2 separate regions of the Homo sapiens genome follow, and region 1 is linked to region 2. A link means that fine-mapping ties the variant in region 2 to the expression of a gene that starts in the linked region. Tissue or cell type: blood mononuclear cells. Region 2 holds a variant in brackets; the other region holds the start of a gene. All regions are shown on one strand. Distances are from middle to middle.

Region 1 (8,000 bases), 50 kb after region 2:
TGGGGATGGCAGAGAGAATCAGAATGCTCTTCTGCTGAGGCAAAGGAAGCCAGCTTGGCCCAAGGCCTGCCAGAGAGCTCTTATCCAGCTGATGGAATAGATTGGGCTTGGTGCTGGGAGCCTGTTTATTATAAAGAATCACACTGATAATCCTGAGTGTGCCAGGCACTTACTCCAGCAGGGTTTTTCCATTATACTTCAGAAACTTTCTAATGCCTTTAGCAGCCTCTCTAGAAAAGTCAGAGTTCAGAGTGGTGCTAAACACCTAAGCATCTAAGCGATGCTTCAGAAAACTGAAACTTGTGCACGGCATGTAGGGCATCGAATTAAATATGGGTCTTACCAGTCAGTGAAAAGGGGCTGAGGGTTTGGGCTTTGCTGCATTATTCTGATAACCTAGGTTTGAATCCTGGCTCTGCCACTTATTATGTAGGTCGTAGGACCCTGGGAAGTCACTTAACCTTTTGAAGTCTCAGTTTTTTCACCTGCAAAATGGGAACGATGAAAACACCCACCACAGAGGATTGTTCTGAGTGTTAAATGAGATAATGATGTAAACATGCCCTGGCAAGCACTCCATAAATGTGATCTATTATTATTACTGTTGAAGAAGTTGATGATAACAGTCACTGAACTTGGAGACAGGACATATGGGTTTGAGGCTGAGTTCGGCCAGCTGAAGATAAGCAAGTGAGAAACCTCTCAGAGGTTTGATTTTCTTGGGGGAAACATAGGGGCTCACAACATCTGCCCTTGCTCCTAACAGACTGGTTGCTGGAAGGATCTGATGTGCCACCCGGATCACACCTGCTTTCTCCTCACTGTACCCCTGCATGGCCCTTGGACCCCACTGGACTTACTGCTTTAATCCCCGCTCCAGGCACTGGAGCCACTCTTGCCAGTGTTGTGAAATCCTCTCTCCGAGGAAGAGCAGCTCCTCCTGCTGCAAGGCTAACCTGCTCCCCTCCCCTGCCCACAACCCGTATTCTCACTTCCTCAGGGATCCTGTTTCACTGCCCCCTCCCTGCCTTTATCTTTAATCCCTTCTTCCTGGTGATTCAACATATGACACATTCAAGTTGTTCTCATATGAAAAAAACACAGGCTCTCAAAGTCCAGGTCCTACTCTACCTATCAGTTCTCCTCTCTTCCCGGGGGTCCTTCTTAAATAAGTTGATCATGTTCTTAATTTCCAGTTCCTTTACTCTGGAGTCTACAACAATCTGGCTTCTACTCTCACCTTTCCATTGAAATTGCTCTGCTAAACTCACCAATGACTTGCTAGTGTTCAAATCCAGCGGAAACAACTGTGCTCCCCTTGCCTGACCTCAGCAGCATTTGAGAAGGTAGGAAGGAGGCAGAGAGCGCAGCCATAAGGGGTAGGCTCAACATGCACAGACTACACACAGTCCTGGATCTATGCCCTATATCCACTTGACTCTGAGCAAGTATTTAACCTTCCCAAGCCTCAATTTCTTCAACTGGCAAATGGGGATCGTAAAAGTCACACTCTTCCTTAGTTGTGCAGTGCACAGCCCGCCTGCCCTAAGCAGTGGCGCTAGATCATCTCTAGACCTCTACATCCTCATCTGGAAGTCCCACAGGCATTTCCAACTGTTGGGGGACCTGTCTCTGTCCCCTCACTAGCCTCAGAAGTAAGTCTTCAGAAGCAGAAACCATATGCATTGTGCCCAGCATATAGTAGGTATTCGAGAAATGCTTACTGAATGAATGAAAGAATAAGTGAATGAGTATGTGAACTCACTATGTAAACTGTAAAGTGCCATGCAAATGTAAAGTGAACACATTCTCTTGGTTTGTGTTTCACTTTTTTTTTTTTTTTTTTTACTTTTTTATAGAGACAAGTCTTACTGTGTTGCCCAGGCTGGTCTTGAACTCCTGGCTCAAGCGATCCTCCCACCTTGGCCTCCCATAGTGCTGGGATTACAGGTGTGAGGCACTGAGTCAGGTCAGCGTATCACTTTCACAACCATAATTTCATTTGAGGCACATTACAATCCTGCATCCATATTCTACAAACAGTCACTTCTTTTGTGTTCACTGGTGTATCTCCTGAGCTCTCAGGACAGTGCCTGGCATGTAACAGGTGCTCAATCAGTGTTGTCAAATGAGTGAGTAAATGAATGAATGAATGAATGAATGAATACTGTGAAAGGCATGGTTATGTGTCAGGCACTGGGGATATACTGGTAAATAATATACACATGATTCCTGCAGTTCAGTAGGAAGAACAAATACATGTGATTATATTCTAAACTGTGACAATGCTATGAAGGAAATGAGTGGGGTGACAGAGAAAAACAAGGTGGGGAGGTGGCTGCTAAGAAGGGTCAGAAAAGACCTCTTTAGGAAGGGAACATGTGACTAAGTTGGGAAGAATGAGAGTGAGCCACACTCCAGGTAACAGCGTGCCTTGCTGGTGAGAAGGCCTCATGCAGGAAAGAACCGGCTCTTTGAGAGACTGAAAGGAGGCCATGACGGCAGGGCCTAGTGGGCCACAAAAGAGAGAAAATATTTAGGCAGCATGTTTTCTTTTAGATGAAGACATGGAGGCACAGAGAGGTTAAATGGCTCGTTCAAGGTCACCAGCAGGTTAGCAAGAAGAAGAACCCAAGTGCTCTGAGTCTGGGCTAGGGCGCTTCCTGCAGCCCTTGCTACCTATGGGCTGGATTTAGGGTAACAGAAGGTGACCTGGGAGGCTGCTGGGTGTGGAAGCAGAGCTGGAAGCCTTGTTCTCACAACAGGAATCTAGAAGTTGGACTTCAGGGCAGGCTTTCCTAGGCGTGGTAGGGGAAGCCTGGGGAAGTGTCCCAAAGGAGGAGGAGCCTCAGGGGTTCCCCAAGAAACAGAATGGACAAGTAGATTGGGGAGCACAAGTTGTCCCAGGGCCGGGAGGTCAGAGACCCTGGGGGACGGGATAAGGGGGTCTGGAGGGCTCCCGGAGGTTTCCCGGGTGATTCCCGCCAGGGAAACCATGAGACACCTCCGTGTCCTGGGTTAATTACCAGTGTCAATGTTATGAGGAGGTATCGCTGGCTCCCCTTTGGAAAAATAAATCTAACCCCAGGGCTGCAGGAGACTATCCTTAGTCACAAAATGACCAGGCTATGGCCTGTCCCCCTCCATGAACAGACAGAACCCCAGTTGGAGACGGACTTTGTCTGGTAGATGCTGCCTCTCACCGTCCCTTCCCTGCAGACCCGATTCCCCTTCCCTTCCAGCTCCCCGCTAGAGTCCAATCAAAGTTTCACCCCGGCCTCCTGCATCACCCTGAGTTTTTGTGAAGTCCTAAAGTGGCCTGCTAGTGGGATCTGAGGGCAGTGATTCGCCTCGACCCGCCCAGGAAAGCGTGGTGGGTGGAAGAGAGGGAAGGCCCCGGGAGTCCCCCCACGCTCGAACAGAGTCCCGGGCTCTGGCGGCGCGGAGGTGTCGCAGGACTGCGAGGTCCTGGCTTGCGGCTTCCCCACTGCAGCACCCGGGCTGCCCCCCGCCCCAGCGCGCCGCGGGCCGGCCTGCACCCCGCCCTGCCCGGCACCCCGCCCTGCCCGCGTCCTGCCGCGCGCTTCCTACCGTGGGGCGCTTCCACTCGATGCCCCGGGTTTTGCTGGAGTAGGGCCCCAACTCCTTGAAGCCCAGGGCCGAGGGGATGGCCGGGAAGGACGGGTCCTGGAAGAGCGTCCCGGCCTCCAGGCACTCGTTCCGCAGCGCCTCGTAGTCCTGGTTGAGGTACTTGATGGCCCTGTCGTGGGAGCCCAGCCCCTCGGCCGCCTCCCGGTCCTTCGCCAGCTTGGCCGCGATGCCCGCCATGCTGCGGTCCCGGCGGCCGTACTGCGCAGAGAAAGGTCGGGGCGACTCCGCGCTGCGCTCGGCTGGGGCGCGGCCAGGGCCCGGCGCGCTGCTGCGGCCACTGCGGGCGCCGCCGCTGCGAGCGATGATTCACCGGAGGGAAGCGGCCCGGCCCGCGGGGTGTGGCCTCAGCCGCTCCCGGCCTGCTGGGCTCCCGGCCCGGGACCAGGCCATCCTGCGGCCTGCCGAGCGCCGGGAACGCCGCGACCCGGGGCCGGTGCTGCCATCTGCGGACAGCTCCCGGGATGGCGCGGCCCGGCGCCGGGGAGGCTCGCGAATCGCGGTCCAGAGTTGGGGCTCCCACCGGAACCCGAGGCCACCTTTGCAGCCCATAGGGAAGAAGGCTAGGATAGTTGTGGCCGTCCGGAAAACACCCGGGGAGTTAGCAGAGGGTCAGGTAGTGAAGTCGAGGAAACTAAACCAGCTGCCCTGAACTTTGTGCCAAACAGCGTCTTAACGGCTCTGCATACATCATCTCATTTAATCCTCCCAGCGACTCTGAAGAAGGCGCTGATATTGTCCCCATTTTACAGATGAGAAAACTGAGCCTCGGAGACGCTAAATGACGTCCCCAATGTGGCACAACAGTCACAGGCAGAACAGGGACTCTAAGCCACCGGAGGCCTATTGCAATCACAATGCTGCAATTACTACTGCTCAGCTGTTTATTTGATTATAGATAGGGTTGTCAGATTTGGCCAATAAGGCTGGGTGCGGTAGTTCACACCTGTAATCCCAACACTTTGGGAGGCCGGAGGCAGGCGGATCACCTGGGGTCAGGAGTTCGAGACCAGCCTGGTCAACATGGTGAAATTCCGTCTCTACTAAAAATACGTCGTGGCAGGCACCTGTGATCTCAGTTACTCGGGAGGCTGAGACAGGAGAAACGCTTGAACCCAGGAGGGAGAAGTTGCAGTGAGACGAGATCGCGCCACTGCGCTCCAGCCTGGGTGACAAAGCGAAACTCCATATCAAAAATAAAATAAAATAAAATGATTTGGCCAATAAAACAACAACCCTCCCAAATGTTTAATTTGAATTTCAGATAAACAACAGATACTTTTAAAGTATATGTAGGGCCCAAATATTGCATGGGCATACATACTTATTCTAAAAGAAAATATGATTCATTGTTTACCTGAAACTCATATTTAACTGGCAGGATTAGTTGGGTTACTATAGGGAGAGAGCATTTAGAATACTGCCTGTGTTGGCTACTGTGACCACTCTGTTGTGGAGCTAGGGTGTGATTCTCATCTCACACACAGAGACATGGGTGCGTGCCAAGAAATGCAGATGGGCAGAAATTACCTCCTCTTCTTCTCTACAGTAGTAGGGAAGAATTTGGGTTTCACTGGAAAACTGTGCATGGTCTACAGCAGTGGTTCTCAACTGGGGGCAGTTTTGTCCCCTACCCACCCCAGGAGACATTTGGGAATGTCTGGAGATAGTTTTTATGGTCACAGCTAGGAGATGAGGTGCTACTGGCCTTTACTAAGTAGAAGCCAGGGATGCCGCTGAACATCTTCCAATGTCCAAGATAGCTCTTGTGAACCCAGAAAATCTGAAACAGGTCTCATTTAATTTAGAAAGTTTCTTTTGCCATGGTTGAAGATGCACACCTGTGACACAGGAAGTCCTGAGGACATGTGCCCGAGGTGGTTGGGGTGCAGCTTGGTTTTATACATGTTAGGGAGGCAAGAGCCATCAGTCAAGTACATTTAAGAAATACATTGGTTTGGTTCAGAAAGGCGGGACAACTCAAAGTGGCGGGGGGTGGTGGGTGGGTAGTGGGGGTGGCTTCCAGGATATAGGTAAATATTTAAACATTTTCTGGTTGACAATTGGTTGAGTTTGTCTAAAGGCCCAGGATCAATAGAAAGGAATGTTTGGGTTGCGATAAGAGGTTGTGGAGACAAAAGTTTTATCACATAGATGAAGCTTTTAGCTAGCAGGCTTCAGAGTGAACAGGCAGTAAAATGTTTCTTATCAGACCTAAACTCTGGTTGATGTTCACGCTGGAGAGGTATAATGAAGCATGTCCGACCTTGCCTTTCCTTCATGGCCTGAAAATTTCAGGTTAAAATTTTAAGAGCCTCGGCTAAGGAGGAACCATCCATTTAGATGGTTGGCGGGGGTAGGGGAGGGGGAGGCTTAGAATTTTATTTTTGGTTTACATTCTCCACCCAAAACATGATCTAGTCCAAGACATCAGTCATGTAGAGGCTGAGAAACCCTGGTTTAGAGCATCTCCTTCCAGAAGATCTGGGTCTAGCCTTTCATTGTTTTTGTTGTTGTTGTTGTTGTTTTTGTTTTTCTTGAGATGTAGCACCCTGTCACCCAGGCTGGAGTGCAGTGACAGGATCTTGACGATCTCAGCTAACTGCATCTTCTGCCTCCCGGGTTCCAGCGATTCTCCTGCCTCAGCCTCCAACGTAGCTGGGATTACAGGTGCACACCACCACATCTGGCTAATTTTCTATATTTTTTGTAGAGATGGGGTTTCACCGTGTTGGCCAGGCTGGTCTCGAATTCCTGACCTCAGGTGATCCGCCTGCCTCAGCTTCCCAAAGTGTTGGGATTACAGGTGTGAGCCACCACACGAGCCCCTTTCATTGTTTTTGAGTTATTTTATAACTCTAAGTTGTATATAACTGTAGCAATGTATAGTTACCTAAGTAACTCTAAGTAAGTAATCTAAGTTGTAGATAACTGTAGCAATGGAAAATAATTTTTCCTATAGATATGCAAATGCATTCTGTCCAGTAGAGGCACTACAGTCCCCCTGTAGAGAGACCAGTTTTTTGTCTAGTTGCATATTCCATTTCAGTACTCTTCACGTCATGTAAATTGTGCTGCTTTGGTTTCTCCTTTGAACCAGTTATAACATCCACCAGATTGCCTCGTTTAATCAAGTTAAATGGACTCTTTTTTTTTTTTGAGATGGAGTTTCACTCTTGTTGGCCCAGGCTGGAGTGCAATGGCACAATTTCGGCTCACCACAACCTCCACCTCCCAGGTTCAAGTGATTCTCCTATCTCAGCCTCCCGAGTAGTTGGGATTACAGGTGCCTGCCACCATGCCTGGCTAATTTTGTATTTTTAGTAGGGACAGGGTTTCTCCACGTTGGCTAGGCTGGTCTCGAACTCCTGACCTCAGGTGATCTGCCCACCTCTGCCTCCCAAAGTGCTGGGATTACAGGTGTGAGCCACTGCACCCTGCCGAAATGGAATCTTTAAAATGTGTTTATTTTATACTAATATGAGAGCCATGATGTTACCTTTTCTTAAAGCAAGTATTTTTGTCACTATTATTCCTCTGCCCCCATCTATTCTTGTCTCTGACACCCATTGCTTACCCCCTTTGCTTGACAAAACTTTGGTCAGACTTCTCTCTTTCCTACAGATCCCTGAATGCTGCTTGCCCCCAAGCCTGAACAAGCACAAACAAAGTGGAGTGTCCCTGCCAAGTCACTTCCCTGCCCAGCTTCTCCTGGGAATTGACTGAACACAGCAAGACCCTTTTCCTGTCAGCTCCCACTGGTCATTTCCCCTCACTTGTCCAGCTTCCCCTCCCAAGAGTCTGCTTATCTCCACTTGCTCCTCCTTTACCCTAGAAAAGAAGAATCTTTTTCTGTTTGATTTTGAGCTGCTTGCAGATTCTCTGAATTGGAATTGTCTTTCTCTCTTTTTTTTTCTTTTCTCTTCTCTTTTCTTTCTTTTCCTTCCTTCCTTCTCTTTTTCTCTATTTTTTCTTTCTTTCTCCCTCCCTTCTTCCCTTCCTCTCCTTCTCTCCTTCTCTCTTTCTCTCTCTCTCTCTCTTTCGCTCTTTCTTTCTTGTTTCACTCTTGTTGCCCAGGCTGGAGTGCAGTGGTGCAATCTCCACTCACTGCAACCTTCGCCTCCCGGGTGCAAGTGATTCTCCTGCCTCAGCCTCCTGAGTAGCTGGGATTACAGGTACCAGCCGCCATGTGCAGCTAATTTTTTTGTATTTTTAGTAGAGACGGGGTTTCCTCATGTTGGCCAGGCTGGTCTTGAACTCCTGACCTCAGGTGATCCACCTGCTTTGGCCTCCCAAAGTGCTAGGATTACAGGTGTGAGCCACTGCGCCTGGCCTGCAATAGTCTTTCTTTC
Region 2 (8,260 bases):
CATTGTCCTGATGTCTCTGTATATTTGCCGTGGGCAAACAGGGCTTTAAAAAGTGCTTTTTGAACAAATAAATAACAGAATGATCAATGGTTGGGCCTTAGGTGCCCACAGGATATAAAGTCACCTGTAGTTGTTGGGCAGGGAAAAAGAAAACAGAGAGCAGGTGTGTTAATTCTAGGCTATGACCCGTGAGAGAAAGAGGTTTACTTGAACTGTCCATCTGCAGACATTTATGGACTGTGTCCCCAGCTGACTGAGAAACCTGAGGAACTGGGATCGATCCACGAGCTATTTGTGCTGCACTAAGTGAGTCCTGTCCACTTGGTGTTTGGCAGGTGGCATGAGACCCTCCCTAGTCACCAATGTGAACCTGGCTCCCCACAGACTTCACGAAAAGCCCAGCCTTTTTGTTATGTCCCCGAAAGAGGTTAGAGCCTGACCTGCCTCAAAGCTGCCACTCTGGGCACCAACCCCTTAGATGGTCATAAGGCTCTGGCCCAGCAGCTGTGCATGCAGACTCTGGTGTGGAGCCCTCCAGAAGGCTGGAGTCAGCAGGCAGCTAGGGGTAGGGTAGTAAGCTCAGAGGCACGCGCGGAGCGAATGCTGCTCCCCCAGCAAGGAGCGGGCTGAATCCAGGCAAGGCCCGCTTCTTCCCCACCTCCCAGCCCCACCCTCCATCTGTGCAGAAACAATGAGGCTTTAGTCTCCTCAGCTCATGAGGACTGCATATCTGAAGAGCTCTGTGACCTCACTTGTGCCTGGTGGCCTCCAGGGTAAACACAATCTTCTTGCCTTCCCTGAAAATTAGAGGAGGGCGGGTGCAGACTGGGTCTCCTCTGGGGAGGCCCTGCACTGGACTGACCGTAACCTGACTGGCCCAGCCCTCTTGGTTCACACTGGGAGGGAAGACCCAGCTGGCCCTGGACTCTTCTTTGGCTCTGAAAGGCAGATTTATTTTATCTCATGGAGTTAGGCTAGAGGCCATCTTGTCAGAGGGAATGATGTCCCTTGAAGTCCATGAGGCTTCTCGAGATGATCCCTAGGGCTGGTATGCAGCAAACAACCATGACTGCATTTGTCTCTGATGCAGATTCCTAACTTCTGATATGTTCAAAACTCTGCTTCCTGGATTGCCAGTTGCTCTCTTAACAAATGCAGCGTGATTCTTTTGATAATTTGAGGGGAAAAAATGTCTCTGTGTTGTGTTTCCCGCTCCTCCCTGCTGGTGATCCACAGTAAGGGGTTGAACAATCAATCCTCTGACATTTTTTTGCTTAAGAAATAGTTAGTTACAAGATGTGGCCGGGCACGGTGGCTCACACCTGTAATCCCAGCACTTTGGGAGGCCGAGGTGGGCAGATCACTTGAGGCCAGGGGTTCAAGACCAGCCTGGCCAACATGGAGAAACCCCATCTCTAGGAAAATACAAAAATTAGCTGGATGTGGTAGTGCATGCCTGTAATCCCAGCATTTTGGGAGGCCAAGGCAGGTGGATCACTTGAGGTCAGGAGTTCAAGACCAGCCTGGCCAATATGGTGAAACCCTGTCTTTACTAAAAATACAAAAGTCAGCTGGCTGTGGTGGCACTTGCCTGTGATTCCAGCTACTTGGGAGGCTGAGGCAGGAGAATCGCTTGAATTTGGGAGGTAGAGATTGCAGTGAGCTGAGATTGTGCCACTTTACTCCAGCCTGGGCGACAGAGTGAGACTCTGTCTCAAAAATAAAATAAAATAAATTAAAAAAATAGATCACACAAAGCTAGTATGTAGTGGAAACCTGGATTTGATCTTTGATCTGTGGATGCTACAAACACTTGTTCTTTTTCATCACATCATACAAATCCTTCATCCACTTCTTGGAGGGGATGGAGGGTGGTGGTTTAGTCACAGCAGCCAGACATGGAGGGGGAAAGATTTCCATGTTCCCTCCCATCCACAGGGGAAAGAGCAGGATGAGGTTTTGCAATGAGGGGATACTCACGCTTTGCTAGAACCCTTCTCAGGATGGTCTGCAGCTCAAAGGCAGAGATCTCCGCATCCTGTGGACACATAACCAGAGCATAGTTATTGGCCCCCCGTGGGAGCTGGATGAGCACAGGGCAGGACACCAGTGCATTAGGTAGGCCTGCGGTGGGGCCTATGAATGTGCATTTCTAACAAGCCCCCGAGCCATGTTGGGGCTGCTGTCCCCAGACCACACTTTGAGTAGTACTGCCCCATTCTGGATTTTAGATACAGTGTTTTTGGTTTGGTTCTTTTTAGAACACCCAGGCTGGGCTGGACTGCAGTGGAATGATCCTAGCTCACTGAAACCTCAAACTCCTAGGCTCAAACGATCCTCCAGCCTCAGCCTCCCAAAGTGCTGGGATTACAGGTGTGAGCCACTGTGCCCAGCCTAGATACGGTGTTTTAATGTACGGATGCAGTAGGGAGAGTTCACTCACCATTTCTTTGCTGTAGAGAATATAAATAATAAATACTCCCCTCTACCCATGTTTGTGGTCTTTCTTAATTCTCTTATACCATTCCTCTTATCTGGCATGTTTTCTTCATTCTTTAAAACTCAAAGCTCAGACTTCCTGTAAAACTGGTGAAAACCAGCTGTCTCCAAGACCTAGCCGGCCCTCCTCTATGCCCATCATGCCAGGGCCCCTCATGGGCTCAGATGTCTCTATCCACTTACACATATTTGTGTAACTCATGGATAAACTCCTTTGTTTAAAACCAAGATTGATTGCAGTCATGTTTGCCTTTTGGGGTGTGTATGTGTGGGATTCAATCAGAGGGGAAAGAAGACTCTCATGGCCCCTTTCCTTGGGAATCTGGGAGGGAGCAGAGGGTGAGAGGCCGGTGGAGGCGCAGAGCAGACGATGCCTGGCTTAGTACTTTGATGGGTCTTTAGGTCAGCGAAGGGAGTACCAGATGAGCTCAATGATTGGAAAGTTCCTCCACATAGTGAAGAAAGAGGACTTTTTTTTTTTTTTTGGAGTTGTTGGGAAGAAAGAGGGCTAAATAACTTTGTGATGGGACTAAATGGCTGAGGGATTTTTTTAAGAACAGGGAAGTGGCCAGGTATGGTGGCTCACACCCGTAATTCCAGCACTTTGGGAGGCTGAGGTGGGAGGACTGCTTGAGCTCAGGGGTTTAAGACCAGCCTGGACAACAAAGTGAGACCCTGTCTCTAAAAAAAATTTAAAAATTAGCTGGGCATGGTGGTATGCATCTGTAATCCCAACACTTTGGCAGACCAAGGTTGGAGGATTGTTGAGCCCAGGAGTTCCAGAGCAGCCTGGGCAACATGGCAAAACTCCATCTCTACAAAAATAAAAATAAAATAAAAATTAGCTAGACATGGTGGTGTGCACCTATAGTCCCAGCTACTTGGGAGACTAAGGTGGCAAGATCTCTTGAGCCCAGGAAGTGGAGGCTGCAGTGAGCTATGATCATGCCACTGCACTCCAGCCTGGGTGACAGAGAGAGACCCTGTCTCTAAAAAGAAAAAAAGAAAAAAGAAAAGAGAACAGAAAAGCCTAATTCAAACACTCTGTTGCAGGTGGCCTGCATTCTTGAGACTTGAAACCCTTCCATCTCTCCAAATCCTTTGTGGAAATCAAGGATAAGGGGCCAAGTTTCATGCCTCAATTGGTGTAGAACAGAGAAAATAAAACAGTCACAAGGTGAGCCCAGGAATCCTAAGGAAGGAGGAACACAGAGTCAGGGCTGACCATGCAAATGGAAGCCCCCGGCAGCATGCGGAGGTCTTAGGGAGGACACACGCAAGAGGGCTGAGCTGGAACCCAAGTGCCATTTGCAATTTCTCTTTGCTTTTGTTCAGTTTGTTTCCTCTCCCCTTTAAACTAAAGTCCCCTTGGGGACACACACTGTCTCTTCCTTTGCATCAACCAGAGTGCATAACATCGTTTTTGGGAACATTTACCTCTCCTGCCAACTGGGCAAACAGTCTCCTGAATCCATCATCAATGTCATCCTCGCTGATGTCGAACTGGAAGGTGAGGCAGAGACATGAGAATGCATCAGAGCGAGGCATGACACCAAGTGTCTGCCCGCCCTTCCATGGCAGCCACCTCCCACTCCCCTTCTCTACCCCTCCCTGGGGCCCAAATTCTACGGTGATTTGGGTTAAGATCAGGTATAGTGTGAAGAATTAATATAAGGTTTTTTTTTTCTAATTAAAACACAAGAAGGAATGTAAATTATGTGGGAAGGAGTAATATTCTAATTTCTCACAGAGGTATCTTCTCTAGCATCCAATTAAAATGGCCTTTTAGGATCTATTCTAGTGGGGACTCAGAAGAATAAAGACTAGCTGGAATGTTGTGGATGGATTTTGACAGTGGCTAGCACAGCCCAATAGGCAAGGGACTGGCCCATGCCCCCAGCACAGAGGCCAGAGCTGATGCAGGTAGTCGACTCTTGGATTCCCAGTACCCGGCTTTATCCTTAGTTTCAGGCTTTGTTCGTGAAGTCCAAAAACTCTTGGAGTTTTTTTGCTCCTCTGCTCTCTGGATTGTCCAGGACAG[A/G]GTGGGTGAAATTCAAAGAGTTACAAATACCTCTTCAAGATTGGCCTCGATTTCATCATCGACAGCTCTGGAAATAGAAGGAAATTATGTGTTACTGGAAGGCAGGCGAGGGCAAAAAGGAAGGAAATCACTGCTAAAATGGAAGTGCAGTGCTAAATCCAGCAGGGGGTAGGTGGGGTGGGGCAGGGCTGCGGTGGGGGGAGGTCTTTGTATTCCAAGTTTCTGTGATAACACCTCCCCTAAAAAGCAAAAATTTTTCTGCATTCCAAGTTTCTGTGATAACATTTCTCTGCATTCCAAGTTTCTGTGATAACACATCCCCTAAACAGCAAAAATAAAGGCAGAAGTGATCTGAAGGAAGGGTCATGACCAAAGCAACGTGGGCAGCTGGAGATTTTTGTTTGCTAGTTTTTGATCTTTATCAAATAGGATAGCCTTCGCGTGTAGCGTGGTGTTCGTCCTAGCCTTAAGGAATAGCTTCTAAGTTCCACTTGAAATATCCTTTGCCAACATAGACTTTCACACTGAGAATCATGCAGTGCAAATCATCGCCTACTTGTTCTGCCTCAGGTTGGAGAGGTGGGCAGTGCAGAGGCCTGTGTGTCATTTCAGCCAAAGCTCAGGTCAGGCAGTGGTTAGTTTATACTGTGCACCGCCCCTGTGTCCAGGGCCAGGTCCTTCTGCTCCATAGTGAGGGTAATCAAGCTCAGGAGGTTCTTCCTTGGGCCACTGTGATTTTAACTAAGTGACCAAGAGTCCTATCAGCAGGGCCAATGCCTGGCAGAAGGAAAAGGGGACCTCTTGGTGCTGATCATTGGAATCTGGAGCAGAAGGATTAATATTTTGGGACAAGGAAGTCAGAAACCTTTGAGAGGTGGGGTGTCCTCTTGGGGTAGGGAGCTCACCCTAGAGAGAGTTGAGGGGTTGAGGCTTCCCTGGGAGAGTGACTTGTGGCTGGCAGGGAGAGTAATGAGTTTGACAAAGGACACTGTTATTCTAATGCCACCAGGTCATGCTCCTATTTTCTTGTCAGTGAGGACTAAACTGAACACACCAGTCTTCCTCTAAGCATCCTCAGAGCTGAGAGGAAAGGTCCCTTCCCCCATGGTAGGCTTTAGCAAATGAAGACAGCCTGTCAGTGGCAGGGGGGCTACAGCCGTGCTATGGTGGCATTCATTGGTATGCAGCTGCCTGGCATTGCTTTGTCTCCCTTCGCCATGGGAAATTATTTCTGCATCATGCATTATCTTGGGGCAAGGGCAGTTCCCTGCCTCTACCTCCCATTGGCTCTTCCTCTACAGGAACCAGCAGGCCAGGTGGCTGACCCAAGCCCAGCACCTCAGACACACTCCACAAGATCTTTAGACCTCAGCACATGACCCAGAGTCCAAGGGGTCATCTCACACCCTGGTCCTCCAACACATCCTTGGCTCCTGTTCTTCCTAGCCTGACCCCCTACCTCCCATCAGTTCTGGAGTCTCCAATGGCCTTTCGATGAATTCCCTTTAGCTTAAATCACCCAGGGTAGATTCTGCCTTTGCCAATCAAGTGCCCAGCTGAACATACATGGTTGAGGCAGAAGTCAAAGTGGCAGAAGCCATTGTGAATTGAGGCCACCTGGACAGTGGCAGGAAATGGTGATGTCAGCCACAAAGGGTTCCCAAACGTGGGATCCCATGAGGAAGGGGAGAGAGAGCTGGTGACATGACAACTATAATAGGGAGAGGTTCTGGAGGTGGGAACCGTTGAGATGGTTCCCACCTTACACCCTTGGTGGCTCTGCTAGGCCAGGTGGCCTGGAAAATCAAGGATTACACCAGCACTGCTCAGCTTTCTTCAAATGACGAGACTGGATTCGTAGTTTAACATTAAAGTACCAACTTGAGAATTCAGAGACACGCTTATGAAATTAGACCCTGCAATTCACTGTACAGCCACCCCTTTCCAACCAAAAATATCCACAGTGGCTTTTTCCATTGTTTACCTTACTATAACACTAGAACTTCCTCAATCCATCAAATCCCCACACTAGTCCTTCGAGGTGGGCAGGTGTTACAGAAAAAGTAACTGACATTCAGAGGATGAAAGAGCCCTCTAGGGGCCGAGGAACAGACCAGTGGGGAGGGACAGGGAAGGGTGGGGAGAGGAAGGGACCAAACCGCCTACTGGTAGTCAGCTTTCTTTTCAGAAAAGACCCGGATGCAGAAATCCCCATCCTTGTTGGGTTCGAAGGTGGAAGGCACGAGAATGTACTCTCCTGGCGGCAGCTTGAAGCGGTTGAGCACCTCCCGGAGGTTGATGAAGGTGTCTGAGCGCTCCCTGGCGCGATTCGTCAGGAAGAAGTTTTTGCTGAGGTGGATGTTGGTCTGCCCACTTAACTGAGGAATAAATAGAGAAACATGGGGGTAGATGAGGGGAAGCCTCCAGGCAAGTATCATTTTCATTCACTGAGATAAAAGCAGTTGGGTAGTGTGGTGGCTCAGTCCTGCTGTCCTGGTGTATAAGGAGGCGAGGCCAGGCGTCAGAAACCAGCCTGGGCAACACAGGAAGCCCTCATCTATATAACGACGACAACAACAACAAAACAACAAAATTTTTTTAAAAAAATAGCAGTACAGTGACAATGCCTGGGTCATTTTAGATAAAAAGCAAACTTTTGTTAGGTGTGGTGGCTCACGCCTGTAATACCAGCACTTTGGGAGGCTGTGAGAGGATTGCTCGAGGCCAGGAGTTTGAGACCAGCCTGGGCAATGTAGTGAGACCCCTGTCTCTGCAAAAAATAAAAATATTAGCCAGGGGTGGCGGCAAGCGCCTGTAGTCTCAGCTACTCAGGAGGCTGAGGTAGGAGGCTCACGTGAGTCTGAGAGTTCAAGGACGGCAGTGAGCTATGATCACACCACTGTACTCTAGCCTGGGTGACAGAATGAGACCTTGTCTTAAAAAAAAAAAAAACAAAAAGCAAACTTTCTACCAAAAAACACAAATGCCTGCTGAGGAACTCGGAAGCACATGCCCACAGGGGTTTCACATCCATTCAGCTCCGCCTGCAGAGATGCCCAGTCTTTCCACAGTGTTCCCAGCCTTCCTCTAAGAGACTCTCAGGCAGGAACAGCGTCCACATGGCAGGAACCTGGCTCGGTTCTACGTGGTGTATGATGCACTATAAAAGCAAAGACAGGACTGGGGGCAGGAGAAAGACAACCCAGCTTCTAAACCAAGCATGATCCACCGGACCAAGGCTGGAGCAGCATCTAAAAGAGCCCGATGTGCTACCGGTTGCACTGCCTTGCTGTGAAAGAAATGTACTACAGGTGGGTCAAAGTGCCCCGTGTGTCTACTTTAATAATCGTGACCTTGGACCAGGCATCCCATCTGCTTCAGCAAGCGGTGACTGTGGGCCCAAATGCTCTCGCAAAATTTAAGTCATTCCACGGTAGTGCAGTGAGGTGGATGGTTGACCAGTTTTACTGAAAAATAAACTGAAATGCAGCCAGGCACGGTGGCTACACCTGTAATCCTAGCACTTTGGGAGGCTGAAGGGGGTGGATCACCTGAGGTCAGGAGTTCAAGACCAGCCTGGCCACCATGGTGAAACCCCGTCTCTACTAAAAATACAAAAATTGGCCTGGCATCCTGGTGCGTGCCTGTAGTCCCAGCTACTGGGGAGGCTGAAGCAGGAGAATCACTTGAACCCAGGAGGTAGAGGTTGCAGTGAGTCGA

Evidence for each region. PIP is the estimated chance that this variant, and not a neighbour inherited with it, causes the effect.
Region 1: CAPN2 starts here. The variant in region 2 is fine-mapped to the expression of CAPN2 in blood mononuclear cells (TOPMed, PIP above 0.99). The same link has a PIP of 0.9 or more in T cells, lung, monocytes and whole blood.

What each region holds. Positions count from the first base shown.
Region 1 is chr1:223,708,469-223,716,468 of GRCh38, reverse strand. CAPN2 (calpain 2) reads right to left here and starts at 3,930. Exons shown (of 21, transcript NM_001748.5): 1 at 3,592-3,930. The coding sequence starts at 3,828. RefSeq lists silencers at 3,464-3,583, 3,794-4,183 and enhancers at 3,293-4,244, 4,284-4,333.
Region 2 is chr1:223,757,928-223,766,187 of GRCh38, reverse strand. CAPN2 (calpain 2) reads right to left here. Exons shown (of 21, transcript NM_001748.5): 12 at 6,707-6,918; 13 at 4,571-4,607; 14 at 3,937-4,002; 15 at 1,981-2,038. Among named protein-coding and RNA genes, the nearest start is that of CAPN2, 50 kb to the right of the region's middle. The variant A/G (reference allele first, on the strand shown) is at 4,541.